Linked DNA regions of Homo sapiens: all the other regions are linked to region 1. Evidence: fine-mapped expression QTL. A gene starts in region 1. Each other region holds a variant in brackets. All regions are shown on one strand. Distances are from middle to middle.

What was found. PIP is the estimated chance that this variant, and not a neighbour inherited with it, causes the effect.
Region 2: its variant is fine-mapped to the expression of C4orf33 in whole blood (INTERVAL, PIP above 0.99).
Region 3: its variant is fine-mapped to the expression of C4orf33 in thyroid (GTEx, PIP above 0.99). The same link has a PIP of 0.9 or more in esophagus muscle.

What each region holds. Positions count from the first base shown.
Region 1 is chr4:129,089,536-129,100,281 of GRCh38, forward strand. It overlaps C4orf33 (chromosome 4 open reading frame 33), which reads left to right and starts at 6,617. Exons shown (of 6, transcript NM_001099783.2): 1 at 6,617-6,674. It overlaps SCLT1 (sodium channel and clathrin linker 1), which reads right to left and starts at 4,004. Exons shown (of 21, transcript NM_144643.4): 1 at 3,535-4,004. The coding sequence starts at 3,568. RefSeq lists an enhancer at 3,699-4,268.
Region 2 is chr4:129,001,938-129,012,683 of GRCh38, forward strand. SCLT1 (sodium channel and clathrin linker 1) reads right to left here. Exons shown (of 21, transcript NM_144643.4): 6 at 1,804-1,939. Among named protein-coding and RNA genes, the nearest start is that of SCLT1, 86 kb to the right of the region's middle. The variant CA/C (reference allele first, on the strand shown) is at 4,600.
Region 3 is chr4:129,138,009-129,148,754 of GRCh38, forward strand. It overlaps the pseudogene ZSWIM5P3. Among named protein-coding and RNA genes, the nearest start is that of C4orf33, 47 kb to the left of the region's middle. The variant C/A (reference allele first, on the strand shown) is at 5,715.

The sequences.
Region 1 (10,746 bases):
TCATTCTACCATAAAGACACATGCACATGTATGTTTAATGCGGCACTATTCACAACAGCAAAGACTTGGAACAAACCCAAATGTCCATCAATGATAGACTGGATAAAGGAAATGTGGCACATATACACCATGGACTATTATGCAGCCATAGAAAAATATAAGTTCATGTCCTTTGCTGGGACATGGATGAAGCTGGAAACCATCATTCTCAGCAAACTATCACAAGAACAGAACACCAAACACCGCATATTCTCACTCATAAGTGGGAGCTGAACAAGGAGAACACGTGGACACAGGGAGGGGAACACCACACACCGGGGCCTGTTGGGGAGTGGGGGACTAAGGGAGGGATAGCATTAGGAGAAATACCTAATGCAGGTGACGGGTTGATGGGTGCAGCAAACCACCATGGCATGAGTATACCTATGTAACAAAACTGCACGTTCTGCACATGTACCCCAGAACTTAAAGTATAATAATAAAAAAGAAATGTTATTTCTACATACTAGCAACGAAAAATCAGAAACTGAAAGTAAAAGAATAATACCATTTACAGTAGTATCAAAAATTTCAATACATAGGCATAAATCTAACAAAAGATGTGCAAAACCTAAATATTAAAAACTACAAAGTATAGCTGAGAAAATTTAAAAAGATACATCAATGATGTACAGAAGAACCAATTTTATTTTAAAACTTACTATAAAGCTGCAATAATTAAGACAGTGGGGTACTGGTGTCCAGACAGACAAATAAATCAGTGGAAAAGAATAGAGTTCATTAATAGATCCATACATATATAAACAACTGCAAAGGAGCAAAGGTAATTCAATGGAGAAAGGGTAGTTTTTCCATTTGGGCATCCAATGCAAGAAAGTGGCCTGGATCCTTACCTCATCCCTTGTATAAAATTTAACTGTATGAACCATAGATCTAAATGTAAAACCTAAAACTATAAAACTCCTAGAAGAAAATATAGAAGAAATCTTTGCAGCCTTGGGTTAGGCAATGATTTCTTTTATGACACCAAAAACACAATTCATAAAAGAACAAATTGATGAATTAAATTTCATCAAAATTAAAAATGTTTGGCTCCAACACTATTAAGAGAATGAAAAGAAAAAATAAGTCCATCACCACTCTGCCAGTGAGTCTCACACCCCACTAATGAATGAATTCTTAGTTCCTTAGATTGATAATGCAAGTACCTCTTTGAACAGGTTCCTAAAAACTAACTGATCTTTCCCAGACAAAGGTGGAAGAACGGTGCACAGCAAATATGCTACAAGCTTACTCTACTAGTAGCCTGGTTGAGTGTGGAGCTGCCTGTCGTTATGATATGTAAAGCTGAAATAGTAATTATCAGAGGAAATGTCATGTGGGGACATGAGAGTTGAGAAGTACCAAACATGAGTTGAGAAGTACCAAAACATGAGTTGAGAAGTACCAAAACAAATGGTCTTGACCTGGGCTCCCAAATCCAAACGGAACAAAGAGACAATCAAGATCAACAGAAATCAGTGTAGAAAAAGTCAGAGGCAGGTGGAAAGAAGGCAAGTGATCTATCTTTATCTGGGCTGGTATTTAGGTGGGTCACTTAATGGAATAACCCACCACCTTCAAATGGCATGCAAAATCCGGTTAAAGAAAAAAGGAGAGCGACACAGACACTCAACTCTCATTCTTATCTCTTCATGCAAACGCTACCATTCTATGCTCCGATTTCCTGAATAAAATCAGTTATTTTAAGCCTTTGAACCATTCCTTCTTCTGCTCCTTCTGCTTGAGATTTCCTTCTTGCACTCCACTTGTCTTCCATGGAACTATTAAATACCACTCATTTTTAAAAAAATGTTACTATGCTTCAGTTGTCTTATTTGTTTTCCCCTGGTATTTGGATCTCAGTTTTATCTAAGAATTCTGGCTGGATCATTCTTATAAAATTAATAGTTTCTGACCACCTCAAGTACTATCCTGACTCTAGCCAAACTCCTCATCAACCAATTCCTGTCCCACACTACTCTTACGGTGGCCAGTTAGCTGTTCTTATGGGGTGGGGATATTCCCACTGCAAACCTAAGAAATAATGCTAATGTTATTGTGTCATTATAGTGTCATTAATTATTTTAGATAACATATACCATGCACTTAATATGTGCCAGACACTATGCTCAATGCTTTTTCATCATCTCATTTAAGTCTCACAACTTCAAGAGGATTCTTGTGTTCTTATACTCATTATATAAATGAGAAAACTGAGGTGCAGAAAAGCTAGGAAACTTGCTCGAGGTCACAGACCTGGAAAGAGGTAGGCTGTGAGCCCAGACAGACTAAATCCAGAGGCTGACTGAGTTCTTAACCACTGGTCTATAATGCTACCAAAACGGAACTTACTACCTTTTTCCTAACTTCCCCGTTGCTCAAGCAAAAACTAAGTTGCTCTCTACCTCTTTCTCTCAAATCCCCTGATCTCCAGTCTCCCTGTGCCCAACTTAGTTTACTTCTTACCTGAATGATGACAGTAGACAACTAACTGCACTCTGCTATAATGCATATTCCCCGTAAAAATCAGACCGGGCCTTCTAAACTACAATTTGATCATGCCACTCTCAACTGAATTCCTATAACCCATGCAATGGTCCATACTCCTTAGCACAGAGAAGACAGGGCCCTTCACCATCCAGCCCCTTTCTACGCCTTCAACTGCACTTGCCATTTCCCTATATAAATATTCCAATTCAATTTACATCAATATTACACTCAAACCAGCCGTATTGCAAGTCTTTAACAAAGCATATTCCTAATCCCCTCAGTGTCACAAATATTGTTCTATTTGGGATGCCTAGAGTTTTTCATATAGTAAATTCATATTTGTACTGCACGTTTCAGCCCAATAGCACCTTCCTTGAACATATTTTAATAATAATCGTGTAATAGTTAATATTTGTTTAACACAATGTATCAGATACTATTCTAAATCCTTTACATATTTTAATATTCATTTAATCTTTCCAACAACCCTATGAGACTGTGGCAAAAGAGCCAGCAGTTGCTGTCACTTCAATATATTTTGGAATACATTTCCCTCCCCAAATTAAATTCTTGGAGGTAAAAACTGTCCTGTTTATCTTTGCAGCAGCTGTTCTTCCATAGTGTCTGGTACATAATAGAAACAGGAGTTCAATAAACATCTTTTTAATAAATGGCCAGAGAGCTGTGCCCCTAGATTTTAAATGCACACTTGGAAACTCCTGCTGGCCATTAGCCTTCTAATCTTCAGAGCACGAGAGGAGCATAACAAACATGTTTAGCGTCTAGTAGAATTCTGTGTAAGCTACAAGTACTACCACACGGTTCTGCTTAAATATACACACATCCTCACGTATAACATCAAGGTTTTTTTTTTCCTGCAACTAACTTCTTTAACTCTTTACCAATTTAAATGTACCCAACCAGCATTCAAAAAAGATTTGTCGGTCAACGACGACGATATTAAACATTGTATATGAAGTCTCAAAAAAACATGGAGCTTACTTTGCTCTCTCAGAAAGTCGATTTCTGCAGCCATTTCGATACAATTTTAGTTTAGAGCTTTCACCACCTTTACCTTCCTCTGAAAGACAGAGAGCTTGCTGTGCGGGAAAACAAAACTAAGCCAACGCTCGGTTGGTTGTCAAGCGCTCCAGCGGTGCAATCTGCATCCTACTCACGCGGCATCTACAGCCCCGCCACGCTTCTTTCCCCCGCGCCCCAGACGAGTCCCTGGCCCTGGTGAGAGACTGAAGATTGCTGGGGACTCCACGTTCAACCGAATCCCACGCTGGTGGGAAGAGGACGCGGTCGATACAGGCGTCCCGCGGGTCACTCTGGGTCTCGTCGGGCCACCTAGGAGAGTGCCGCGGGAGCTTGACGGCAGCCTGAGAGCGGCGTTCTACGCGGAGCGGCGGGGGTTGGAGAGGACAACGCCAAGACGGCTGGGAAGCCCCAGGCCAGCAGCGGAAGTCCACTCGGCCCGCCCTGCGACTTTGAAACCGGTGCCCCGGACCACTCCTTGGAGACGGTGGCGCCTCTTGCGTCATCACGCGGGCGTTGGAGCTTACGCCATCGCGCGTCCTAGAGTCCTAGCACGCTATTGGCTGGCTGTCAAGCAATGGGAGGAGTCGTGAGAACCTGGATGACAGCGGGCTGAGCCACCGGCTTGGCGCGGCGGCCAAACTGGTGGGACAGTGTCTCCAGGTAGTGAGGCCCAACCTCTTTAAAACAAACAAACAAACAAACAAAAAACCAAAATGCAAACGTGAGTAGAGAATGAAATACACAGTTTAAATGCCCTCACTATCTTTGGGTTACTAATATACTAAGCCTTTCTGGACTAAGTAAAAGATGCAGGTTCCTGCGGCTAGGGATAGAAGCCAGACTGGCGTCTTCAGAATCTCCCACCAAGGCTGTACCTCTGGAGGAGTTCTAGGTTTGGATTTGGTCATCTCAAGAAGGTAAGTACCTTCTCGGTCTTTGTGGGTCTTTAGACAAAGGAGACAACTGTTGTTTAAATATTTAACTGTGTAGTAATAAAGCGTGTAGTTAGAAGTACTCAAAAGATCTTGCAAATTCAGCAGCTACTTCTTCAAAGATAAGCTTGTTTCCTCAAATATAAGGAAAGATAAAAGGTACTTTTTTTTGCAAAAAACAAAACGGTAAAACTTACATTTGTGGATAGATTACAATTTTCATTTTTGAAAATTAATTTTGTCTGGACTTAAAACGTATTTTTTTAAAAAAAATCATTTAACATTAGAGGAAATCTCACCACTAGCAACAAAAATGTTAACTTGAAGCTAGCCACTAGTTTTGTGCTTTTAATAAATTGTATTTTTATGGACTGAAGTAAAGTTTCACTAAACAGGCATGTCATAGATGCAGCTTGATTTGGCTTTCTGTTTAACGGCTTAAGAGTTTTGTTGTCCCGTACTCATAATGTCATATAAACAAAGTAACCTTAGCGATATGTGTTAAGAAATTTTAAAAATGTATTCAAATATATGCAGTTAGGCATCTGAAGGCCTTACTCAATACTCACTGTTAATAGAATGAGATGGTCCCTTCCTCTAAAGACTAGCTGTTAAATATGGATGTGTAGCTTAATAATCATTGAAAAGGTCTAATCCAGCTTTGAGTTGGTGATAATTGAACTTGTTCTGATTTTTAGTAGCTATAACGTTTACACAAAAACTTTTTGTATAAACGTTATAGCTAAGGGAAAATTGAGTGTGCAAGGTCCAACTCGTTTTTGAAGTTCAGTATATGACTCTTTCTTCATAAACATCTCACTGACTCTCCAAGGACTTGCTTGTAACTTCTCCCACATTTGAACCTTGTATATTGTCGTATTTCTACTTGGCATCAAATAAATAATTATAGACTTAACTCTACGCTTACACCCAAACTGGATGGAAGCAAATACCTTCTGGCTATAACTGATGAGTGGTATTTACATAAAGTGAATATCTCAGGTGAAAACTTTTATGTCTGCACTCGAATTTTTTAGCTTACATGATCATAATTATGATCATGATAGTTTTTTGTTTTTGCGTTTGTGTTTGTGGTTACAAGATTTTAGTAGTTGAATTTTAATGGAGTATTTTCAACATAAGTTTCATCATTAGGAAACAAAATTGTGATGATTTCACTTATCCTTAAAGGATCCCCTCTCATGTTCCTCCTTTTCACATCTCCTGAGTTCTTTATCCACTTCTCCCAAGGTAGGTGCCACCTTAGTACTTACTTCATGCTCCTTCCTGCATTATCTGTCATGTTTTGTAGTTTGTCTCCAGGCTCCATCATAATACCTGGAACACAGAGTTGATTAAATATCTGATGGAAGGAATGAAAGAATTCAGTGGATGTTCATGAAAAGTATCTATTAGTATAAATTGAATACAAGGAATGACAAGCAGAAATGTATGTAGTTTGTGTGTAACTCTTGTCAAGCCACCATTTAATGTTTTTATATGACTTTTCTGCAATAAAGAAAACCCCTAAAGTTGTATAGATTGAAAATTAGTGACATTTCACTAACATTCATTTGGTTGATCAATTGACATTGAGCACCCAGTACTATGTGCAAAGTACCAGGAAGAATACAAAGTTAGAAGTTTAAGCAAGGATCAGAACAGATCACACAGCTGGCAAGTGCCTGAGTTGAGATTTGAACCCAGGCAGTATGGTTCTAATTTCACAATTGTTAACTGCTATGAACATGCCTCCCCAGGAATATAGTATAATATAGTTTATAGCTGGTATAATATAATTTATAGTTTTTGCTTATATGGCCAGTTAGCCTTTAGTTGTATTAAATGAAATATTTCTGTACATGTTATATTGTAATCTTAATGATTTACAGTTGATTTTCAAATTATTGCACAGTATTTATATTTCTGAATCACCCTTCCTTCTTCTAGGAAACCACTCATACTTTAGTGGAACGATTAGAAGTCTTCAGTTGTTCATGTGTGGCCCTTCAACATCTTTCTTTCCTAGAAAAATCAAGCGTCTTAGCTTCAGTGTTCTAAGCCCCTCCCCCAGAACGTGTAGGCAGCTGGGTGGAGCCTAAAGCCGAGCCCTCTCCTGTGACCTCGGCTGAAAAGAAGAAGCCAGTGTTTGAGAAAAGCTTCGTGGTCTGTGTTCTCTAGTTGTTCCCTCTTCTCTCTGACATTCCTTTCGTCGTCGCCAGGTCTTGTTTTTCGCTTGATCTCTGGAAAATACTGAAAAGTATTTTACTTTTCAGCTGTCTCCTGCTAAGTGAGCGTACTCCCCCTTTCAGGCTGACTTCCTCATTTCTCCGTTTCCCTGATAAATGGGCGGGGCCTCGGGGAGGTATGGAAACTGAAAAGAAATCATTATTGTAGAAAAACTAAAGAAATTTTTGTTGAGCAGAGGAATTTGGAAATTTTCCTTGCAGATCATTTGGTTGAGAAAACACCTTTACCATAACTTATTTCTTTTAAACTTTGCGGACATTTTTTCTTTTCCTGGGTTCTTAATGCTCCAGTGTTCGGTCTCCTTTCTCTTCCTTCGTTTCCTTTTAGAGGTCTTTCCAGGTAAAGATAAAGCAATCAGAACAATTGAAAATTTATTTTTTTAACTTGTTTTAAGAGCAATTTGAAGAATAGAGGTTAAAAGTAGAAACATACAGAGTAACAATAAATATTGTATTAAGAAAGTCTAAACAGCCAAACTTAAAATTGCATTGCAGGACAGTAATCATCTTGATAATATGCATTATGACTTTTCGGAAACGTTCAGCATATATAATATAAAGGGGAGAAGAGGCAGCCACCATACTCTTTTTAAGAGAACCGGCCTTAAATTAGACTTAAAATATATATATTTTTTTGAGACGGAGTCTTGCTCTGTTGCCAGGCTGGAGTGCAGTGGAGCGATCTCTGCTCACTGCAACCTCCGCCTCCGGGTTCAAGCGATTCTTCTGCCTCAACCTCCCGAGTAGCTGGAACTACAGGCGCGTGCCACCACGCCCAGCTAATTTTTGTATTTTTAGTAGAGACGGGGTTTCACCATGTTCGCCAGGATGGTCTCGATCTCCTGACCTTGTGATCCGCCTGCCTTGGCCTCCCAAAGTGCTGGGATTACAGGTGTGAGCCACCGCGCCCGGCCAAAAAATAATTTTAAACTGTTCAGTTACCTTAAAATAGTAATGCATGTCTGTCATAGTGTAAAATGCAGATAGGTTTTTAAAAAGTGATGAAGTTGAAAGGAAGCCTTCCTCCTTCCCATATCTGCAGGCAGATAATTCCCTTCAGGGAAGCAACCACTGTTACCACTCGTTTCTTGGATGTTTCCTGAGATAGTGTATGCCTCACAAGCATATATGCAAATAAGCTTCCTTTTTATTAAATAAATGCACCTTGCTTTTTTTCACTTCACAACATATTTTAGCATAGATGTTAATTCAGAGCTGCCTCATTCATTTTAGCAGTTATACAGTGTTTCATTGTATGGTATAGCATAATTTTTTTTACCAGTCCTCTACTGATGGGTATTTAAGTTGCTTCCAACATTTTGTTATTATGAACAATGCTACCACAAATATCCTCAACGCTTATGTCATTTTGAATATGTGCAGGTATAGTAACTCCTAGAACTAGACTTATTTTTGTCAAAGGATAGTTGCATTTTTATTTTGATAGATATTGACGTATTGCTCTTCACAGAGGCTATATCAATTATGCCTCACTAGCAATAAATGATTTTTTTCTCAATGCCTTCATTAACACAGCTTGTTGTCAGACTTTCTGATCCTTGCCAATCTAAGTGAAAAATGGTAATTTATTGTGGTTTTAGTTTGCATTTCTGTCATTATAAGTGAACATTTTGCATTTTCTCTCCGTGAACTGGCTGTTCATAATTTTTGGTCACTTTTCTGTTGGAGTGTTGGTCTTTTCCTTATTGATTTCTAGGAGCTCTTTGTGCATTAAAGAAATTAGTTATTTGTATCAAGTATGAATTGCATATACTTTTCCCCAGACTTTTGATTTTGTTAATGATAGGCTTTTGGAGTAAAGGGAACTTGGGAAGGAGGTTTTTGCTTTTTTACTATTATTTATCTATTATTAAAAAAATTCAACTTTTATTTTAGATCCAGGGTATATATGTGCGGGTTTGTCACATGGTTATATTGCATGATGCTGAGATTTGAGGTACGAATGATCCTATCACCTGGGTAGTGAGCATAGTACCCAGTAGTTAGTTTTTCAACCCTTGCCCCTTTCTTCCCTCCCCCCTCTAGTAGTCCCCAGTGTCTGTTGTTGCCATCTTTATGTCCATGAGTACCTACTGTTTAATTTCCACTTATAAGTGAAAATATGTGGTATTTGGTTTTCTGTACTTTCATGAATTTGCTTAGAATAATAGCCTCCAGCTGCATCCATGTTAGTTTTGCTATATTTATGTAGTAAAATGTTTGGGTTTTGGTTTGTATTTTAAAAGGTTTTCTCTACTAATGCAGGGAAAGCCCAGATTTGGGGCTCAGCCCAGGAGAGTTCTTGGCTTCATGCAGGAAAGGATTCACAAGCTAAAGCAAGTTTATCAGAGCAACAAACTACAGGAAAATGGCTGCTCCATAGACAGAGTAGGAGCAGCAGCTCCCATGAATTGTTGGCCAGCTGTATACATACAATTCCCTGGTTATATGCTAAATAAGGGGTGGGTTATTCATGCATTTTCCAGAAAAGTAGGAAGGGTTCCCAGAACTGAGAGTTCCTCCCTTTTTTAAACCATATAAGGTAACTTCTAGGAGTTGCCATGGCATTTGTAAACTGTCATGCCACTGTTGGGAGTTTTTTTTTGCATGCTACTGCATTATAATTAATGTATAATGAGCAGTGAGGGCAACTAGAGATCACTTTTGTTGCCATCTTGGTTTTAGCTGGTTGTGGCCAGTTTCTTTGCTGCATCTTGTTTTGATAAGATTCTGTTTCAATCAGTGGGACCTTGGTGCTCAGAAAACAAGCCCAGCTCATCTCCTACCTTACTACTATAAGATTTTATTTAACTCTCTTTTTATTTCCTGTTTTTATATGATTTTGATTTTTATGTTTAAATCTTTGATTCATCTAAAACTTACTTTGGTATAAGGATCCCACTGAATTAAATTGGACTGCAAAATGAACCAACTGATGTTGGAAACGGGTACCTCATTGATTAGTTACATGAGAACCATCCCAAACTCCTGTAGACTTATTATATATTATTTCCCCAGCACCTGGTATGGTACCTGAAATAAGATGAGTGCTTAATAAATGCTTGATAAACTAAATTGAAGGGAATTTCTGGGCTTATTATCTTTGTTATTAGCCATTGTATTGATCTGATATGTAGTGTTAAATGAGATGATGATACCACGAACACAGTAGATTTCTCCTGCACAAAATCTAGAGTGTTAGATCCAGGGACTAGAAAAATTATTCACTCAACAAATAAATAGTAACCATCACTTATAGGCATTCTAGCTGGGTTCAGGGAGTCAATAAACAAATATGTAATGCCATGTAATTGCCATGTAAGAATAGAAATAGAGCAGTGTATAGGTTAATAGAGAATGACCAGGAGGGGAGCGCTAGCCCAAGAGGTGAAGGACATTGACAATTAAGTTGTCTTTACTTAATGAACACATGTTCAAATACAAAGAAATTGAAAGGTTGTGGGGGTTAAATCTCAGAAGATTACAGAGGGAGAATCATCTGTCTCTAGTTTATGTTAGTTTTAAACTAGACTGTTAACTACTGGGCAGGACGGACTATACTTTTTAGGTTAATTTTTATAAATATTATGCATTCTTAGATTGACGTCAGTGTTCTTTAAGCGATATAAAGTTTAAAAAAAAAAACAAATTTGTCATTGCAATAAGAAACGAAAGTTGTTTATGCAATTAAAGCCAAAATTATATTCTGTCTTTGGACTGATCAGCCATGCACTATTCCCTACTTGTGGAAGTCTAGTCACTATTTTTTGCAGTAATTTTCAAATAATGCTCAAAGAAACCTTAGGGGGGAAAAGCAGAAGGAACCAGTAGAAAGGTTTGAGGTACTCACTACCTAATTCTTAACAATGGTAACTTTGCTTTTATCTTTTACTTCTTATCTTCCAGATAAAATTACATTTTGAAGTAATTTGAAACCTATGCAAGCTTGTCCAACCCAAGGCCCATGGACTACATGTGGCCCAGGACAG
Region 2 (10,746 bases), 88 kb before region 1:
AACAAACAGCATGCTTTCCTCATTATTTCTTTCTTTCATCATATTTAAAAATTCTTTCCATTCATACATTAAAAAAAATTAGTGTTAAATACATGTTCCTTATCAAGCTAAATATAGCCTTTCTGACTTACCTAAAATATCACTTTCATAATTATAGAATTTTAAAACCAAATTTTCAGGAAATAAAACCGAATTTTCAGATAATTATCAAATCAAAATTGTAATTTAGAATTTGTAGCCCCCATTTATAAATGAGGAAACTGAGGCACAAGAGTTTTTTTCTATGATCACACACCTGGAAAGTAGAAGAATGGGGATTTAAACCCATACAAGATATGAAACATTTGGGATATAACACTGTAAATTTAAATACAATTCCCTTATGAATAAAATTCACAAAAAATTAGTTGAAAAACAGGATATATTTAACATAGCTGCTCAAAGATTCTAATTACTATGAGAGAAAAAGAAAAAGTATAATTCTAGAAGAAATATAATGTTAGAAAAATATAGTACTCTTAATATTCTGAAAACAATATCAGAAAAAAGAACACTGAAAAATACAAATTTAGAGAAATAATGGATTTTTTCCTTTAAAAATTTTCATTGACATTAAAATATTCTCTCTACAAAGAACTTAAACAAATTTACAAGAAAAAAACAAACCCATCAAGAAGTGGGCAAAGGAAATGAACAGACACTTCTCAAAAGAAGATATTTATGCAGGCAACAAACATATGAAAAAAAGCTCATTATTACTGGTCATTAGAGGAATGCAAATCAAAATGACAATAGAATACCATCTCATGCCAGTTAGAATGGTGATCATTAAAAAGTCAGGAAACAACAGGTGCTGGAGAGGACGTGGAGAAATAGGAACACTTTTACACTGTTGGTGGGAGTGTAAATTAGCTCAACCATTGTGGAAGACAGAGTGGCAATTCTTCAGGGATCTAGAACTAGAAATACCATTTGATCCAGCAATCCCATTACTGGGTATATACCCAAAGGATTATAAATCATTCTCCTATAAAGACACATGCACATGTATGTTTATTGCAGTACTATTCACAATAGCAAAGACTTGGAACCAACCCAAATGTCCATCAATGATAAACTGGATAAAGAAAATGTGGCACATATACACCATGGAATACTATGCAGCCATAAAAAAGGATGAGATCATGTCCTTTTCAGGGACATGGATGAAGCTGGAAACTATCATTCTCAGCAAACTAACACAGGAACAGAAAACCAAACACTGCATGTTCTCACTCATAAGTGGGAGTTAAACAATGAGAACACATGGACACAGGGAGGGGAACATCACACACCAGGGCCTGTTGTGGGGTTGAGGGCTAGGGGAGGGATAGCATTAGGAGAAATACCTAACATAGATGATGGGTTGATGGGTGCAGCAAACCACCATGGCATGTGATACCTATATAACAAACCTGCACGTTCTGCACATGTATCCTAGAACTTAAAGTATAATTAAAAAAAAAAAAAAGAAAAAGAAAAAAAAGAAAGAAAAAATATTCTCATAAGAAAAAAACTCACGTCAAAATCTTTATGATTTTAATTAAACACATTTGTAACAACCAGTGAGGGTATTTGGCAAGTACGTTTCTAACAGTGAGGGTATTTATTACAAGTGTTGCTACCTGTAACGATTCTTATAAACTGTAAAAAATCATAATGTTACAATTTTATTATTTTGTTATCCATAAATAATGATTAACATGAATTTTTAAAAAGGTATGTTAATTCAGAATATAATTTTTAAAAATACATGTCACTCACTTGATTGGCTAGCTGCAATTGTTCTTGAAGGTTTCTGACTGTTTCATCATCTGCATATATGTCAGTTCCTACCTCTGTGCCCAGGGGAAAGGCCTCCAATTTTTTTTCAACAGCATCTTTTAATTCACTGTGCAACCTTTGAAACAAATAGTTAACATGATAGCCTCAAGTCATTTTCGTAACAGTAATTACTGTTTCGAGGTCAATTAAACATTTGGGTCAACAATAACTCTTTAAACAAAATCATTTTTAAGTAGACTTCAAATAAAAAATTAGAAGTGTTTAATTACCATTAAATACTGTGCTATAAGAATCAAAAGATTATATAACAATTTCAATGCATTAAATCGATCACAATTAACTGAAGCATGATTCAGTTTGTCCTAGAGAGGTTTCAATTTTTCAAAAATTTTCAAAAGAGTAAAATTCAGATATTATCTCTTATTAAATGATAAAATAAGCCATTCAGAAAAATTCTAAAATATCTATGTATATCTAGTCAATTAAATGAAAATTATATATTAAATCCTGTAGAATTATTTGCTATTTTCTTCAGCGTGTTTCACCAAACTCACTGGACTTCTTACTAATTCCAGTTAACAAGCAAAGAGAAGAAAATGGTCGCTGGCTATAAAACCAAGACATCAGAAGCTTTATTTTTCAGCACATCCTTATATAAGATCAACAATAATACTGAAAGGCTTAAAATTGACTTTAATCTTAACATTAAGGTAAATTACAGATATTTCATGCCTTAACTACAAAAAAAAGCAAGGAAGGTACAACTTAAAAGAATGATTGTTTTAATTTAAAATAATACATACTTAAGAGAAAAAAAGTACATTTTCAGAAAACACTCTTATTTCATATAATCATAAGCAGAAAATATTTATAGTAAATACATTACAAAGTGAAAATAACAAAATAAACTACATCCATCTACCTAAAACATTTAGAGGTGAATGATTTACTAATATTACAAATCTCCTTTGAAACAAGAAAACTTAAATCTTGATGTCAAAACATATTTATTGAAAACAAAATTCATCAAATACAATAAAACTGAGAAGGTAAACACTTTAGAAACAAAAAAATTAATTACTCTGAAGAAAGGACAGAGCTTGAAAATTATTCTCTAATTAAAAAACTTACAAGTATTGGTTAAGACAGTTTTTATTTTTAAATATCTAACAGTGTTTTTAAAAACTTTTATTTTTCCTATATGAAATGTTTACCTAATAGAGAAAATGATCAGTATAGAAATATAACAAGTTTTAGAAAAGATACCCCAAGTCCTATGAAAAAAACCATTATTAATTCTGTAATATATTTTCTAGCAGAATTTTTACTTTCCATTAAAAATAGACCAATGACATACTGTATTGCTAATACTATAATCTGTCTTTTTAACCGTAGTATTCAGACATATGCATTCTCTCACATTCTAAAAAGTTTTCTGCAAATATTTTAAAGATGACATAATATTCCATCATTTTCATCATATGGTTATCTGCATCATAACTTATCAATTATCCTAATCCTTTAAATTGATTGTAAAATGAAATGAAAAAATAGTAAAATTAATATTTAGTACACTGTACTTTAAAATATCAGAAACACTGAGAATTAAAGTGTCTTATTTCTTTGTTACGCAGCCAAAAGACACATGAAAAAATGCTCATCATCACTGGCCATCAGAGAAATGCAAATCAAAACCACAATGAGATATCATCTCACACCAGTTAGAATGGCAATCATTAAAAAGCCAGGAAACAACAGGTGCTGGAGAGGATGTGGAGAAATAGGAACACCTTTACACTGTTGGTGGGACTGTAAACTAGTTCAACTATTGTGGAAGTCAGTGTGGCAATTCCTCAGGGATCTAGAACTAGAAATACCATTTGACCCAGCCATTGCATTACTGGGTATATACCCAAAGGACTATAAATCATGCTGCTATAAAGACACATGCACACGTATGTTTATTGCGGCATTATTCACAATAGCAAAGACTTGGAACCAACCCAAATGTCCAACAATGATAGACTGGATTAAGAAAATGTGGCACATATACACCATGGAATACTATGCAGCCATAAAAAATGATGAGTTCATGTCCTTTGTAGGGACATGGATGAAATTGGAAATCATCACTCTCAGTAAACTATCGCAAGGACAAAAAACCAAACACCGCATATTCTCACTCACAGATGGGAACTGAACAATGAGAACACATGGACACAGGAAGGGGAACATCACACTCTGGGGACTGTTGTGGGGTGGGGGGAGGGGGGAGGGATAGCATTAGGAGATATACCTAATGCTAAATGACAAGTTAATGGGTGCAGCACACCAGCATGGCACAGGTATACATATGTAACTAACCTGCACATTGTGCACATGTACCCTAAAACTTAAAGTATAATAAAAAAAATTCATTTAATAAAAAAATGTAGTTATAACAAGCAGTATAATTATAACTGACAGTAAGACAGTTTTTAGGGTCTTAAAATTTTTAGCCAGGTTCGGTGGCTCACACCTGTAATCCCAGCATTTTGGTAGGCCGAAGTGGGTGGATCACGAGGTCAGGAGTTCGAGACCAGCCTGGCCAATGTGGTGAAACCCCGTCTCTACTAAAAATACAAAAATTAGCCGGGCATGGTGGCGTGTGCCTGTAGTCCCAGCTACTCAGGAGGCTGAGGCAGAAGAATTGCTTGAACCCAGGAGGCGGAGGTTGCAGTGAGTCAAGATCAAGCCACTGTACTCCAGCCTGGGCGACAGAGCAAGACTCTGTCT[CA/C]AAAAAAAAAAAAAAAAATTTAAAGGTCACAGAAATATCGTAATTGTCCCCCATTGATTATTAAGATAATTTTGTACAGTTTCAGCTTGCAAGGTCATTTTTTTAATCTTACACTTCATACAAAGGAAGGACTACCTATACATAGTTTAATTTTGTTTGCTTCAGTATCTGGCATACTTGGGGAATAGATGTCCAATCTTGCGTTTCTAATGCTTGCTGTCTCTCACCGAGTGTGCTCTGTTCCCGAGGTGTTATATGATTTTGGGTTTAGATTGCTGTTCTTTTTCTAACCTCTTCAACAAATTCTAAGACATCATTATTTTTAGACTTTCTTTTCTAATACATACTCTTAAGATTACAGCTTTCCCTCTAAGAATCGCCTTAGTGGCAACGCCGACGTTATGTTATTTTCTTTATTAATCAGTTGAAAATATTTTCTAACTTCCATTGTGAGTTCTTTGACCTGTGAGTAACATTTAGAGGCATACTGCTTAACTTAGAAAAAGCTGAGGATTTTCTAGTTACCTTTTTATTATTGATTTCTAGCATAATTTTCACTGTCATCAAAGAACATAATCTGAATAATTTCAATCCTTTTATAATCTGAGAGTTGCTTTTTTTTTGAGTTGGTCAATTTCAGAAAACTATCACGTGTACTTAGAGAATGCATATTTTGAAGGTCTTCGGTATTAGTATTCTATATATGTCCCTTAAGAGATTTCTTAATTGCATTATTCAAATATTGCATCTTAACTTACTGTTTTTTTTTCTGGTTGCTATTTTATTTACTGAGAGCAACCTGCTCATATTTCCTATTATAATGGTGCATTTGTCTGTTCTGCCATTCAGTGCTATCACATTTTTGTATTCTGAGTCTTTGTTATTGAGTGCTTACACATTCAGAACTGTCATATCTTTTGGGCAAATATAATTTCGTATCATTATGGAAACCGCCTTTTAATCTGTAATCATCTGTTTCACATTAAATTCTACTATGTCTGATATTACCAGCATGTTTTCAGTTAGCACTTCCATGGTATACATATTTTCTATCCTTTTATTTTCACCCATTCTGTACTCTTGTATTTTACGAATCTCCTTGGTTAAAAGCATGTAATTGTGGGTTCATTTAGTTAATCTCTGGTAAATCACTCTTAAAATTATAGCATGTAGTACAGCAAAATTTAATGCAATTACTAAGGCATCTGGGTTTATATCTACTACCTTAGTATTTCCTATATGTCTTGACTTTAAAAAAACAAAACAAAACACCTCTCTTTTTGTTCCTATTCTTTCTTATTAACTGGAATTAATTACATTTTATTATTCCACTTTCCTGCTCCATGAGCTTGGAAGTGATAGAATCTTTTAGTTTACTGTAGTGCTCAGCCCAGACATCGTAACATGCCTCTGAGAATTGCCACCCTCTACTATAAATTAGTATCCTATTTCTAATGGATAATGTAAGCACCTGAGACTATCTCAACTCCATTTACACTCTTCCTAAATGTACGGTATTGCTGGCTCATATTTCAAGTCTCCTCAAACATTTTAAAGCCATTATTATTATTTTTAAAAGTTTATACTCGTTAGATTTTCTCCCATATTTACCCCTTCCATAGTTCCAAACTTTATTCTAGGATGATTTTTCCTTCTTTTTTGGGATTTGGATTAATTCTGTCAACGGTAATTTTCTCAGTTTTCATCTGAAAATGTACTTATTTAACCCTCCTTCTTGAAGAACATTTCGCTGAGCACACAATTCTTAGTTGACAGTTTTGGTTTCTTTTCTTTTCAGCACTTTGAAGATATTCCATGTCTCTCGATTTCTATCACATCTGTTGAAAAGTCAGTTATCTTACTGCTATTCCTTTGAGGATAATCTCTGTTGTGAGAATTTTTCTTTGATTTTGATTTTGTAGATGTTTTTGCATTATCATGCTTGTGATGCATGGTGTTTCTTTAATCCACAGATCTTTTGCTACTTTTGAAATTTTTCAGCTATTGTCTCTTCAAATATTATTTCTGTCTTTCCTGTTCTCTCTGGGATTCAAATTACACGAATTTTAGTTCTTTTCACTACCACATTTTGTTCCATATTTTCTTTTTAAATTTTTTTGAATTTATTTTTTACTTAACTTTTAAGTTCAGGGGTACATGTACAGGTTTGTTATATAGGTAAGCTTGTGTCACTGAGGTTTGTTGTACAGATTATTTTCAACCCAAGTATTAAGCCTAGTACTCATTATTCTTTTTCCTGATCCTCTCCCTCCTCCCAGCCTCCACCCATTGATAGGCCCCAGTGTGTGTAGTTTCTCTCTACATGTCCATGTGTTCTCATCATTTAGCTCCCACTTATAAGTGAGAACATGAAGTATTTGCTTTTCTGTTTCTCTGTTAGTTTGCTAAGGATAATCACCTCCAGCTCCATCTATGTTCCTGCAAAGGACGTGATCTTGTTCTTTTTTATGGATGCATAGTATTCCATTGTATATATGTACCATATTTTCTTTATCCAGTCCACTGTTGATGGGCATCTAGGTTGATCTATGTCTTTGTCATTGTGAATAACTGTTCCGATGAACATGTGAGTGCATGTGTCTTTATGGTAGAATGATTTCTATTACTTCGTTATATATCCAGTGATGGGATTGCTGGGTTAAATGGCACTTCTGTTTTGAGTTCTTTGAGATCCAAGCCGGGCGCGGTGGCTCACGCCTATAATCCCAGCACTTTGGGAGGCCAAGGCAGGCAGATCATGAGGCAGATAGAGACCATCCTGGCTAACATGGTGAAATCCCATCTCTACTAAATAAATAAAAAAAAATTAGCCAGGCATGGTGGTGGGCACCTGTAGTCCCAGCTACTTGGGAGGCTGAGGCAGGAGAATGGTGTGAACCCAGGAGGCGGAGCTTGCAGTGAGCTGAGATCGCGCCACTGCACTCCAGCCTGGGCGACAGAGTGAGACTCTGTCTCAAAAAGAAAAAAAAAAAAAAAAGAATCCAAACTGCTTTCCACTAGTGGCTGAACTAGTTTCTGTTTCTACCAGCAGTGTAAAAGCATTCCCTTTTCTCTGCAACCATAACAGCATCTGTTATTTTTTGATGTTTTAACAGCCATTCTGACTGGCGTGAGATGGTATCTCATTGTGGTTTTGATTTGCATTTCTCTAATTAAGTTGAGCTTTTTTTCATATGGTTATTGGCCACATGTATGTCTTCTTTTGAAAGGTGTTCAAGTGCTTTGCCCATTTTTCAATAAGGTTTGATTTTTATTGTAAATTTAAGTTCCTTATAGATGCTGGATATTTGACCTTTGTCAGATGCAGTTTGCAAAAATGTTCCCCCACTTTGTATGTTGTCTGTGCACTCTGTTGATAGTTTCTTTTGCTGTGCAGGAGCTCTTTAGTTTAATTAGATCCCATTTGTCAATGTTTGCTTTTATTGCAATTGCTTTTGGTATCTTCTTAATAAAATCTTTGCCCACTCCTATGTCCAGAATGGTATTGCCTAAGTTGTCTTCCAGGGTTTTTATACTTTGGGGTTTTACATTTAAGTTTTTAATCCATCTTAAGTTAATGTTTGTTAATCTTCTGCACATGGCTAGCCAGTTATCTCAGCACCATTTATTGAATAGGAGTCCTTTCCCCATTGCTTGAGTTAGGTTTGTCGAGAATCAGATAGTTGTAGGTGTGTGGCTTTATTTCTGGGTTCTCTATTCTGTTGCAATGGTCTATGTGCCCGTTTTTGTACCAGTAGCATGCTGTTTTGGTTACTGTAGCCCTGCAGTATAGTTTGAAGTCAGGCAGCATGATGTCTCCAGCTTTCTTATTTTTGCTTAGGATTACCTTGGCTATCTGGACTCTTTTTTCGTTCCACATGAATTTTAAAATAGTTTTTTCTAGTTCTGTGAAGAATCTCAATGGTAGTTTAATAGGAATAGCATTAGATGTATAAATTGCTCTGGGCAGTATGACCATTTTTACAATATTGATGCTTTCTATCCATGAGCATGGAACATTTTTTCATTTGTTTGTGTAATCTTTGATTTCTTTGAGCAGTATTTTGTGCTTCTTGTAGAGAGATCTTTCACCTTCCTAGTTAGCTGTATTCCTAGGTAGTTTGTGTGTTTATTTATTTATTACAACTGGGAATGGGATTGCGTTACTCATTTGGCTCTTGGCTTGACTGTTTTTTTGTGTACAGGAGTGCTAGTAATTTTTACACATTGATTTTGTATCCTGAGAATTTGCTGAAGTTGTTTGTCAGTTTAAGAAGCTTTTATGCCAAGACTATGAAGTTTTATAGATATAGAATCCTGCCATCTGCAAATACGGATAGTTTGACTTCCTCTCTTCCTATTTGGATTACATTTCTTCCTCTTGCCTGACTGCCCTGGCCAGGACTTCCAATACTATGTCAAATAGGAGTGGCGAGAAAGGGCATCCTTGTCTTGTGCCAGTTTTCAGGAAGAATGTTTCCAGGTTTTGCACATTCCATATGATGCTGGCTGTGAGTTTTTCATAGATGACTCTTACTATTTTGAAGTATGTTCCTTCAATACCTAGCTTATTGAGACTTTTTGACATGAAGAATGTTAAATTTTAATGAAAGCCTTTTCTGCTTCATTTCAGATAATCATGTAGTTTTTGTCTTTAGTTCTGTTTATGTGATGAATCACATTTATTGATTTGCATATGATGAACCAACCTTGCATCCCAGGGCTAAAGCCTATTTGATCATGGTAGATAAGATTTTTGCTGTGCTGCTGGATTTCATTTGCCAGTATTTTGTTGAGGATTTTTGTCTCTATGTTCATCAGGGATATTGGCCTGAAGTTTTCTTTTTTGTTGTATCTTTGTTAGGTTTTGGTATCAGGATGATGTTGGCCTCATAAAATGAGTTTTATGGTCTGTTGCATTGGTCTATGTGCCTGTTTTTGTACCAGTACCATGCTGTTTTGGTTACTGTAGCCCTGAAGTATAGTTTGAAGTTGGGCAGTGTGATGTCCCCAGCTTTCTTCTTTTTGCTTAGGAATACCTAAGCATTTTTTTTTTGGAATAGTTTCAGTAGAAGTGGTACCAGCTCTTTGTATATTTGGTAGAATTTGGCTGTGAACTTATCTGGTCCTGGGCTTTTTTGGTTCATAGGCTATTTATTACTGCCTCAATTTCAGAACTCATTACTGGTCTGTTCAGTAATTCAATTTCCTCCTGGTTTAGTCTTAGGAGGGTGTATGTGTCTAGAAATTCATCCATTTCTTCTAGATATTCTAGTTTATGTGCATAGAGGTGTTCATAATATTATTTGATGGTTGTTTGTATTTCTGTGGGGTCAGTGGTAACATCTCCTTGTCATTTCTGATTGTGTTTATTTGAATCTTCTCTCTTTTCTTCTTTATTAGTCTAGCTAATGGTCTATTTTATTAATTTTTCCAAAAAACCAGCTTCTGTGTTCTTTGATCTTCTGGATGTTTTTTTGTGTCTGAATCTCCCTCAGTTCAGCTCTGATTTTGGTTATTTCTTGTCTTTTGCTAGCTTTGGAATTTGTTTGCTCTTGGTTCTGTAGTTCTTTTAGTTGTGATGTTAGGTTGTTAACTTGAGATCTTTCTAACTTTTTGATGTGAGCACTTAGTGCTATAAATTCCCTCTTAACACTGCCTTAGCTGTGTCCCAGAGATTCTGGTATGTTGTATCTTTGTTCTCATTAGTTTCAAAGAACTTGATTTCTGCCTTAATTTCATTATTTACCCAAACGTCATTCAGGAGTAGGTTATTCAACTTCCATGTAATTGTATGGTTTTGAGCAAATTTCTGTTTTGGCTTCTAATTTGTGCTGTGGTTTGAGAGATTGTTATGATTTCTGTTCTTTTGCATTTGCTGAGGAGTGTTTTACTTCTGATTACGTGATTGATTTTAGAACATGTGCCATGTGGTGATGAGAAGAATGTATATTCTGTTGTTTTTGGATGGAGAGTTATATAGATGTCTCTCAGGTCCATTTGATCCACTGTTGGGTTCAGGTCCTGAATATCTTTGTTAATTTTCTCTCTTGATGATTGGTCTAATATTTTCAGTGTGGTGTTAAAGACTTCCACTACTATTGTATGGGAGTCTATGTCTCTTTGAAGGTCTCTAAAAACTTGCT
Region 3 (10,746 bases), 48 kb after region 1:
TCAGCCTCCTGAGTAACTGGGATTACAGGCATCTGCTACCATACCTGGCTAATTTTTTTTTTTTTTTTTTTTGTATTTTTAGTAGAGATGGGGTTTCTCCATGTTGGCCAGGCTGGTCTTGAATTCCTGGCCTTAGATGATCCACCCACCTCAGCCTCCCAAAGTGCTGGGATTATAGGCATGAGCCACCGTGCCTGGCCAGAAGCTGAGTTTTCTAAAGCAGGTAACCTCATGGCACGTCAGGCTAATTTATAGGACAGGTCTGGACCATGAGACAGCAGAGCTGAGAACAAATACTTGGCAAAGGTATGTATGCATGGGAACACTCTTTTAGTGAATGACTTCTCCCAGACTGCTGAAAGGGCCCCCTTCCAGCAGTAAGATACACTGTTTGCAGTGTTTGCACTAGCTTATCGTCAAGCTGCAGCTCTTGGAGTTGGCTTAGGAGCTGCTCTTCATTATGGGACACCTTGTCCTGTGCGTAGAGGTATTCAGGCATTATCCTCTGTCGACCCAGGTCCATCAATGCAACTTCCAGGGCCAATGACGGGTAGGACTTACTACTGTCTGGGGAGCCTGCAGCCACAGGTACATGTTGGTACACAGGGGGTCTGCTTTCATTCATATCTGACATCTCCAGATAGCCGTCATCATTCAGGCAGCAGGCCTCGGTCAAAGTGAGAAACAGGCAGCCAATGGGATCGGGGGTGGCCCACCTGGCCCTCCAGGTTTGTGATGGTTGTCGTTCCTCTCTGCAACAATTCTTTCTTCTGATGCTTGCAGATTTCCAGTTGCCGCTGTTGCTGCAGCTTCAGAGTATTAATAATGGTCACTGTGAGTCTGAGGGCCTCTTTTGGATAACCATGGGAACGTAGGGAATCAACCTGAGCACAGGCTGTAGGCACATGCTCAAGGCACAGTGGCTGGCTTGGGGAATTAAAGAGTACTCTTTCACTTTCCTGCCGGCAGGCAGGAGCTGTGTAAACATCACTGCTGATTATTCGCTGTAGGTGGCTGTCCTGTCAGTGTAATTCATGGCCCTCAATGGCCCTTGTGAATATCGTTCATCTTGGTCTGGATAAGGAGTCTGGGCTGTGAATGGCATTCTGGGGAAGTGCATTGGTGATGTTGGACAGCTCATGTCCATAGTTTCCATCCTCCAGGGGACAGACATCCAGGTCGCTCCACTTCTGCAGCAGCTGCAGCCAGCAGGATTTCTCCTCCAGTTTGCAGTGTGGATTTAAAGTTATGCACACCCATAGAGCCCTAGCTCATGCCAGAGTTGCCTGACTTTACCTGTCAGGCTTGTTCCTTGCTGACTCCAGAGTGTGAGTCATGGGTCAGCCATAAACTGGTCAGTTATTAGCATCAGTATCCTTGCTCCATTGGAATCTCTCATCCACAGCATTTCTCGAACCTTGGCAAATATTGAGTTGAGTTGCTTTCCAGAGCCATACTAAGCCCCCTGGGAGAGAAAAAGCTTCACTTGTTCTTTCACCTCTTCTTCATCCAAACGCCAACAGTTCTCATTGTTAATGCTGGCCCCAGCTGTGGGGTCAGGAGCACTGTTCACTTGGTTGATTTCTGAGTTGGAGGATAGAATCTCATCTGCCAGTTTCTGTGCGGTAGGAAGAACTTCAGTGTGGTGGTGTGCCGTGATTAAATATTCAATGAACTTTTGTAGCTGGTCCCTATTCATCTGGGAAAGGGTTTCAGAGATCAGAAGACACAAGGTTTTCTCTTCTTAAAAATTAGGAAATAAACAAAAAGTTTATTTTCTTTTATTAAAAACTGAGTTTAAAATAATTATGATACTCATGGACACTTATATTTTCCCTTATAGTCTTTACATATTAAATACTTTGACGGCTTTTTATTTTTATCACCATTACACATGGTTAACTTGTTCACTTGAAAAGAAGAACGGGAAAAAGTTGCTGTCCTGGAGAACATTCTTTCCACTTCTGCATAACCCACATTTAACTTCTAAAACATTAATTACATTTGCAGTGAGGCAAACAGAAAATGTTAGAAGGGCAGTCAAACCTTATGTATTAGGGATAAGCTGGTGGCCTTTTAGTGCAGAGAATGCACAATTATGCTGTCCATTGCATATTATTTTTCATTAATGTCTTTGAAGCAGCTCTAACAATGCAGAGCAGCTGATTGTACCTCCTTTAAACTTTCCCTCTCTCCCCCTTCCAACTGACCCTATGCCTCAGGTCACAAAATTTTTCACTGCCTATTATTGCAGAAATATTTTCACTGGCAATTCCAATGGTGAAGTCCAATTGCAGTGGTTCTCAATTGTACCTCTTAAAACTTATAACAGCATGGTTGCCATGTGCTTATAGCTGAGGAAATAATGGCATTCTAAATAGTTATCCAACAGTTTGTTCCAGATCCATAATTATGTATACCAAAATAAATCCATCTCAATTTAATGTGGGGTGATACATAGCTTTACATATGTAGTTGAAGTCTTTGTGAAAGCATGCAAATACATGTATGACTTTAAGTAACTTTGACAGTTATCCTAGCTGAGCACTATCAATTTGCTAAAATTATTTTAAAATACTTATCATATACTTATCATTTAAACCTTGAATGTTGAACTCTTATCATCAGTATTTCCTGAAATGGCATTTAGAACCATTTGATCGTGGTGTTTTTCTAGGACATTGTTTCTTCCTGCTTTTTGCCACTAGATGGAAGAAGCAGGTTAACAAAATGATATTTTTGGTGCTTCATTCAACTCTACCAAGAAACACCACATAACTGTGTTTAAAATACTGACAACCTCAGCATGCTTTTATTTATCTATTTTTACTGCATTATTCTTTTTGCGTGAATACTGGATCTAAGAACTGTATTTTTGTAGAGGTTAATTTTCTTTTTATTATTTTGATTACTGGAAATTTCAAAAGTAACCAAGAAAGAAAACAATTGCCAGCTGGAAGAGGAAAGGTAAGAATTATATAAAAACATCCATAACAGGTATGCCACAAAGTAATTCTTAGCATGCATTATTGCCAAGGAAGCACACAGTATTGCCCTTGTTGAAGACAGTGGACTAGGTGCTGTGAAACACACAAGAAATGACTTGGGTACAGCTCCTATTTATAAAATTTTTACATTCTAGAAGAGAGCTAAGCAAGAGGTAAGCCAAATGAATTTACACATACTCTTAGAATAAGGTAGAGATGGATAAATATCAAAATCACAGATATAATATTTGGGATGTACATGGTAGGTGGGGAGGGAGGTTTGGAATATCACTTTTATCTGAGAACATCAGGGATCACTTCAGGAAGAAACTGGATCCTTGAAGTAGGAGGGACAGAGAATAGCATTACAGTGATAGAGGCAGAATGAACAAAGGCACAGAGGCAGGAAACGACAATTTAAAAAATATTTAAAGATGAAAGGATAGTACATTTTAAAATAATTTAAAAGCTTGCGTAGAGAGGACATTGTAAGTGGTACTTTTTAAGCAGATGATAGATACAGGAAGTATACTTACAAACTAAGGTACCATCTAAGAGAAGCACCTTAGATGCTGGGAAAGTGAAGTTTCAGCTTGGAAATGGAAGGTCACCCAGGTTGAAAGAACCTGGAAATGGAAATTCTAGCTTCCATTTGATGCCAGTGTTTTATCAGATGTAGGCTTACTGTACACATGGTTCTATCAATTGTTGGGAAGATTCCACAAGGGAAATATACGTTTTGACTTACAAAGGCAGCTTTCTGTGGCTTCTATTCACCTTCACTAATCTTAAGCATGCTTAAAAGAAGACAAAGGTGGTAAACATTGTCATTTGACTCCAAGAAACCAATATTTAACCCGTAAGGCTGCATGTTTTACTATCTACCTCCTTACCTAGCAGTATATTCATATGGATGATCAAAGAATTCTATTCCAGCCACTAAAGGCAATGATCTTGAGCCCTGATATTATGAGTGGCTATAAAATTATCCAGCTTTTAAATCCAACCACAGAATGTGATTTTATGACCTTCTGTGGAAGTGTAGCTATAGGTTAACTAAAGGTTATGAAGTAATATTTCCTTTTTATAGTTCTGAATTCACTGGCTTGTAATTTCAGAGATCACCTTGTTCTATAGTGGGACAAGCTTTACAGTATTATAATTTTGTATAACCCAATGAAGACCTTGTAACTTTTTCTTTTCCGAATTCAGATTTTTACATTTTTCCTATGATATTGTTTGTATCTAGTTCACCATTTTAATTGCTAAAATTACACATAGGAGACTATATAATTTTTTTGGCTCTGGAGTAAAGACTTTATATAATTTTAAGTCTCATTTACGTACTTTGTTCTATATCTTGCTTACAAGTAAGATGTAGTTAAAACTTAAATATTATTTTACATCTTACTGGGTAAAAATGCTGTTCATTAAATCTTACTTAAATTTGATATATGTGTGATACTATATAGGATTATTAGATTACCTAAAAATTATATATATACTTTTATATAGATATCATTTCAAATTAATAAATTTTGATTATAAACCTCACTTTTTATTATAAAAAGTAACTTGTATCAATAGTTCTCTCTATATGCTAATTTTTCTGGATTCAAAGTAAATATCCTAGTGATTTTAACATACCTACATCATCCATGTTTGAACCTAATTAAAGTTAATAATTTTATTTTGCTGACCCTTCATATCCTTTATAAAATATAAGCTGATTGTCCTACTAAGAGAAGATGCCAGTTTGATTTTACGATATTTTCTGCCTATCTACAATTAAAATCTTTAAATATCATAACTCAGTGGTAGTATTAGATATAAAAATATATAATTTCAAATGGATTTGTCAGAAGGATAAAAAAAATGGCCACAGAAACCTACATGAATTATTGCTTATCTTTTAGGGCCCTGTATATGTAGGCAAGGTAGCGAATAGAGGCAACTATTTGAAAAAAGGTGGGCAAAATGTAAAATCCTACAGTTGAAGAAATGATACAGCAAGGAGTTTTTAGCCTACAGAAATGATACAGCAAGGAGTTTTTAGCCTACTTACCCAAACTGTGTATTTACATTGATTCTATTGACCTAATATAATCGCACAACTCTTGTAATTCTTTGCCCTTATAGATGAAAGGGGAACATCTTGAAATAAAATTCTCTAATTCTGATACAACTCAGCCCTAACTTTAATGTTGCTTGGTTTCCTATTATTCTGATTTGAAAATCATTAGTAATTTTCCTGTAGAGAGTTTTAAAAATGAAATCTGTCAGAAAAAGGTTATATAGCTGAACAAAACCTGTCCATTAAAAGAGTGTTATCTGCTCCTTTATTGACTTTTAGAAGTGTATTTCTTTCAGTTTAGAGAAATTTGATTTTGCCTTTCAGGAATCATACCGTTTTTGGCCAAATAAAACCTCTTTGTTACTATAGGTTGTAGGATATTCCTCTGTGGAAACCTAATTTAAAAAACAAAAAACAAAAATCAACTCATTGGGTCAAATTCTGTTTTATGTAGTGCTGGCATAAAGTGGGAATTTCATAAATTTAACAGAAAGCTGACTAAGCAGTTGAGAATTTGGTAAGCATCAAGCTATTTTAGAATACACCAGCAGTTGAGCATTAGGGTGTCTACAAATGTTTTTTTTTTGTGTGTATGTGTGTGTGTGTGTATATATATACATATATATTCATATATATATGAATCTTGCTTAAGA[C/A]GTTTCATACCAGAGAACATTTGATTACCAGAATTTTAAAAATGTCTTATTTGTCCACACATACTCATTTTTATTGTGTTTCATACATTTTCTGGTTAACATTTGATATTTCCAAACTACATAGCAAAACAAGTGAAATTTCATACTAAATTTAAAATTATTTTGACATTTTGAACTTTTACTGAAGGTGACAGTTTTACTGAAATTTGCGAGTTGCTAGAAGAATGCCTTTGACCATGTTGGGATGTTAGAAAGAACATAATCTATTTATAAAAAGAGGAAAAAAATAAATAGAATACATTTTAAAAATCATTCTAATTCTATTTCTAAGCAAAAGTAGCTCAGAGTTAGGCACAATTTGGGAATGTTTAGGAGCAAATGAACAATCATACCACTGACTATATGGAGTTTTAAACTTTTTTGCACACAAATTTCTTCTGCTTTTACGATGGGATAGTTTTCTAAATGGCTGTTTAGACCAATGTTTTATCATAATTTATTCTTGGCTTTAAATTTTGTTTTCTTTTCTTTAGTCAGAGTCAGTTTGGTTAATTTTCTCTACATAATGGGGAATGAATAATTTAAAAGACTTGAATGTATTCTGCACTAGGAAATTCAAGAAGTATTATGTTGTAGCGAGAAAATAGAGTTCTATTGAATTGAGTTCAATTGTATTCTTTAAGATCCTTTTGTCTTATAAACATTGCATAAGAACCATTGGAAATAAAGACTATAACTTTGAAAATAAAACCTTACCAGTGTAGTTAGGAGAAATCGGGATAGAAACAAATAATTAATAAATAAAATAAATTTGGATTAAGACTTCAGATTTCTCAGAGTGTTTTGGTTTTTCTATACATCTTCCATAGTGATTTTTCTAAAACATAAAACTTGTCAGTAAATTCCCTGCTTACAACCTTCAGTGGTCCACATGGCTTCAGCATAAACTCGAATGTCAGCTCAGTGATCTGCACCCCTTCTGCCAACATCACTTCTTTCATCACGCCCCATCCACCATGTCCCTTATGCTCCGTTTATCTCCTATCTCCCCTCAGCTATCTCATGGTTCTGGGCTTTTGTTCATGCTATTTCCTCCATTTGTAACATAACTGTTTCCTTTCCTGTTCTGTTCCTGCACATCCTGTGAGGTCTTTGCTGGCACTCCCGTGTTGGAGGCGGAAAGAGTGAGGGTCGTGATCAACTCAGTATACCACTGGAGGCTACATGAGTAAGCAACAAACTGTTCTCATAAATGCAGAATGTTGGCAAACTGACAAACTGCGTCTGCCGCCCAGAAAGACTGCTGAGGTCAGTCACAACCCAGGCGCAAGTGGTTCCTACGATTAGGCGTAATTGAAGCCTGTTAGTAACAATATGAACCTGTGATCAATTAAGCAGCTGACCAATCGTTACCTCCTCCTCCCTGCTCTTGTTACCCAATAAGGGCTGTAGATGCTTAGGCGGCTGCCTTTGCTCATTAGAAGCAGGGAGTCTTTCTTCTCTCCTTCTCTCTTCTTCCCCATGCTAGCCTTTCCTTAAAATAGTTACTTTTGTCTTAAGTTTTCATGTCTTCTTTAAAACAGTTTCTTTTGTATTAAGTTTTCATTTCTGCGTTCGTCCCTTCCTTCAGTCTTGTAATGACGGTCCCAAGCAGTAACAGTAGTAACTGCTATAGTGACAGTCTCAGGTAGTAACCCTGGCAGTCAGCCACACTCTCGCTCTTGCAGCTCCCACCATCAGAACTAGAGGCCCCGTGCTCTGTGTGCCCCTACTTCTATTAAGGCACTTTTCATGCTGTTTTCTCACATGTTGCTCACAGTTGTGTGTTTTTCCATTAGATTGTGAGTCATCTAAGTCCAAGGGACAGGTCTTGTTTTTGTAACTTCATCATCTAGAACAAAAAAGTCATGATGTTTATTAATTGATTAGCACTTGCTAAGCATTCAATATATACCTAGGTCAGAACAACATTCTATTACATTTTGGGAGGGTACATAAAAGTCAGCAGCTAGCATAGAATGTGAGCAATAAATGCTAACTGAGGCGATTACTTTCAGCTTTCAAAAAAATTGAAATTAAAATAGGCAAAATAAGCATCCATAAGATAGTTACATTAAATATATGTATTTTCCTTTCTTGTGCAGCTCAAGTTCCAGGAGGCTTTTTTTCTTTTCTTTTCTTTTCTTTTTTTTTTTTAAGACGGAGTCTCACTCTGTCACCCAGGCAGGAGTAGTGCAGTGGCGCGATCTCGGCTCACTGCAAGCTCCGCCTCCCGGGTTCACGCCATTCTCCTGCCTCCGCCTCTCGGGAGTAGCTGGGAGTACAGGCGCCTGCCACCACACCGGCCTAATCTTTTATGTTTTTAGTAGAGACGGGGTTTCACCGTGTTAGCCAGGATGGTCTCGATCTCCTGACCTCGTGATCCGCCCACCTTGGCCTCCCAAACCAGGAGGCTTTTCTGACTACTACAACTCATATTTATCTCTATGTTTTTATTACTTTTCTGTGTATTCCAATCAGGTTCTTAATGCTTTTTTGAACTGTTCATTAGTTTGTAGATGTGCATTTTGTTTTTTTCCCCTAATAATAAAGATTATAACTTTTTTAAGGGCAGGGATTACATCTTTAGCTCTTTGACTCTCCTTTATAGAACCTAGTGAGCAGCTGCATATAGTCTATTCTCAAAACTTGTTTGTGGAATGAATAAAAACATGTTTATGTTGGTAAACCTTGTATGTACTGCATAGGTAATGTACCTGTATTAAGTCACAACAAGCAATTCTTCAAAATTTTTTTTTGTAGAAATTTTGCTATGGGTAAAAACATTTTAATGCAACTAATAGAATTTTAAAAAATGCAATGAAGTATTCGTTGCCTTGAGGATATTGGTAAAAATGTTATTTGAGCTTAATTACATCAAGACCAAGGGAACAAGAAACACATTGCTTCACTTATATCATGGTATTTGATCTCCTGTCTCATTTTGGTAGTTGGAATATAAAACTACCACAACATGGAACAGTACACCAGTGATACACAGGCCTGTAACTCTCACATTTAAACCTGGGGCTTGAGGCTTACTAATGGAAGTGAATGCTCCAATTTTCAATGATCCCCCAGCACCATCAGGGGGCACCAGGGCAACCTTTTAATGAACTCTAGAAGTATGAAGGTTAGAGATTTTGTATTTTGAGTGCCAACAGTGAGAAAAATGAAGAACACACATTATGATATGCGGCCATGTTTTCTTACAGTAGCTATTATTTTTCTCGGAGTTTCCAAATACCTCAGCTTATTCAACATGAGTATCTGAAAAATTTAATGACTCAGAAAGCTGGGCCAAAGATTGTGTGAACCGGAATTGAGATTTTTGGAATGAACAGTCTATATTTGATAAGCATGTAAGAAAATTATCCATGAAACAATATTAATTAGTAATTCATGTGAAAATGTTAGTCCACATAGTCAATACAGATAATTGTTTTATTTCAGGTATTGAGTGGTATTTGCAAAGCACTAAATTTAAATTGACAGTGTTCTTTGAAGTTCTAGGAACTATAAGTTAAAACTGTGCCCCTTTAAAAATTGTACAGCAGTATTGTGATGCTTAGTTCTAACAAGTTATCTATAGCTTTTGAAGAAAGATTTTAAATGTAGATATTTTGTGTTTTTAAAATTTATGGACTTCACTGACTAATTTAGGGAAAATTAGGTGACTGTTTCAGAGATTCATAATATATTGGAACTCTGCCTGTGAAGGATCCAGTCAGTTAGCTCCCTTAAATATACCTGTCCCTATAGTATGGAGTAAAATATTTGCAAACTGCATAGAACAAAAGACTAATGTATAGAATCTATAAGTAATTTAATAAGAAAAAGGCAGACAAAGGATATGAATAGGCACTTCTCAAAGGAAGACATAAAAGCAGCCAACAAACATACAAAAAATTGTTCATCATACCTAATCATCAGAGAGATGTAAATCAAAACCGCAACGTGATACCATCTCACACCAATCAGAATCGCTATTACTGGAAAGTCAAAAAATGACAGATGTTGTCAAAGTCATGGAGAAAGGAGAACCCTTGTATACTGTTTGTGGGAATGCAAATTAGCTCAGCCCCTGTGGAAAGCAGTTTGGAGATGTCTCAAAGAACTAATAATAGATTTATACCATTTGAGTCAGCAACCCCATTACTGGGTATATACCCAAAGGAAAATAAATTATTCTACCAAAAAGACACCTATAAGCATAGGTTTATTGCAGCACTATTCACAACAGCAAAGACATGGAATCAAAGCAGGTGCTCATGAATCTTGGATTGGATAAGGAAATGAGGTAATTATGCACCATGCAATAGTATACAGCTATAAAAAAGAATGAAGTAATGTCCGTTGCAGCAACATGGATGCAGCACAAGGCCAGTATCCTGAGAAAATTAAAATAGATAAAAAAAACCAAATACCACATGTTCTAACTTACAAGTGGGAGCTAACCATTGGGTGCATGTGGAAACAAAGATGAGAACAATAAACATTGAGATTTCCAAAAGGGAGGAAGAAGGAAGTGGGGGACAAGCATTGAAAAACTACTTATCAGGTATCATGTACATTACTTGGGCAACGGGATTATTAAGTGCCCATACTGCAACATCATGCAGTATACCTGTGTTACAAATAAGCACATGTTCTCCCTGAATCTAAAATAAAAATAATAAAATGCTTTGTGGTATAATATATATTACATTATATTACTAGATGATATATAATTATGTATATATTATATATATATATATATATATAATGTCTACAGCTGAGGTTTCTTGACTTAAAACTCAGAACCTTCCAACATATGATGATACTTTGATTTGAAAAAATCCATTTCTTAGGCTACTAGAATTTAATCAGTAGACATTCTTTGTTTGGAGTCACTTTTGAATAATATTTACAATTTCCTCATGAACATGAAAACCTGTATTTTCTTTACACTAAACCTTATATACCTAAATATGAACTTGTCCTCCTACAAAAT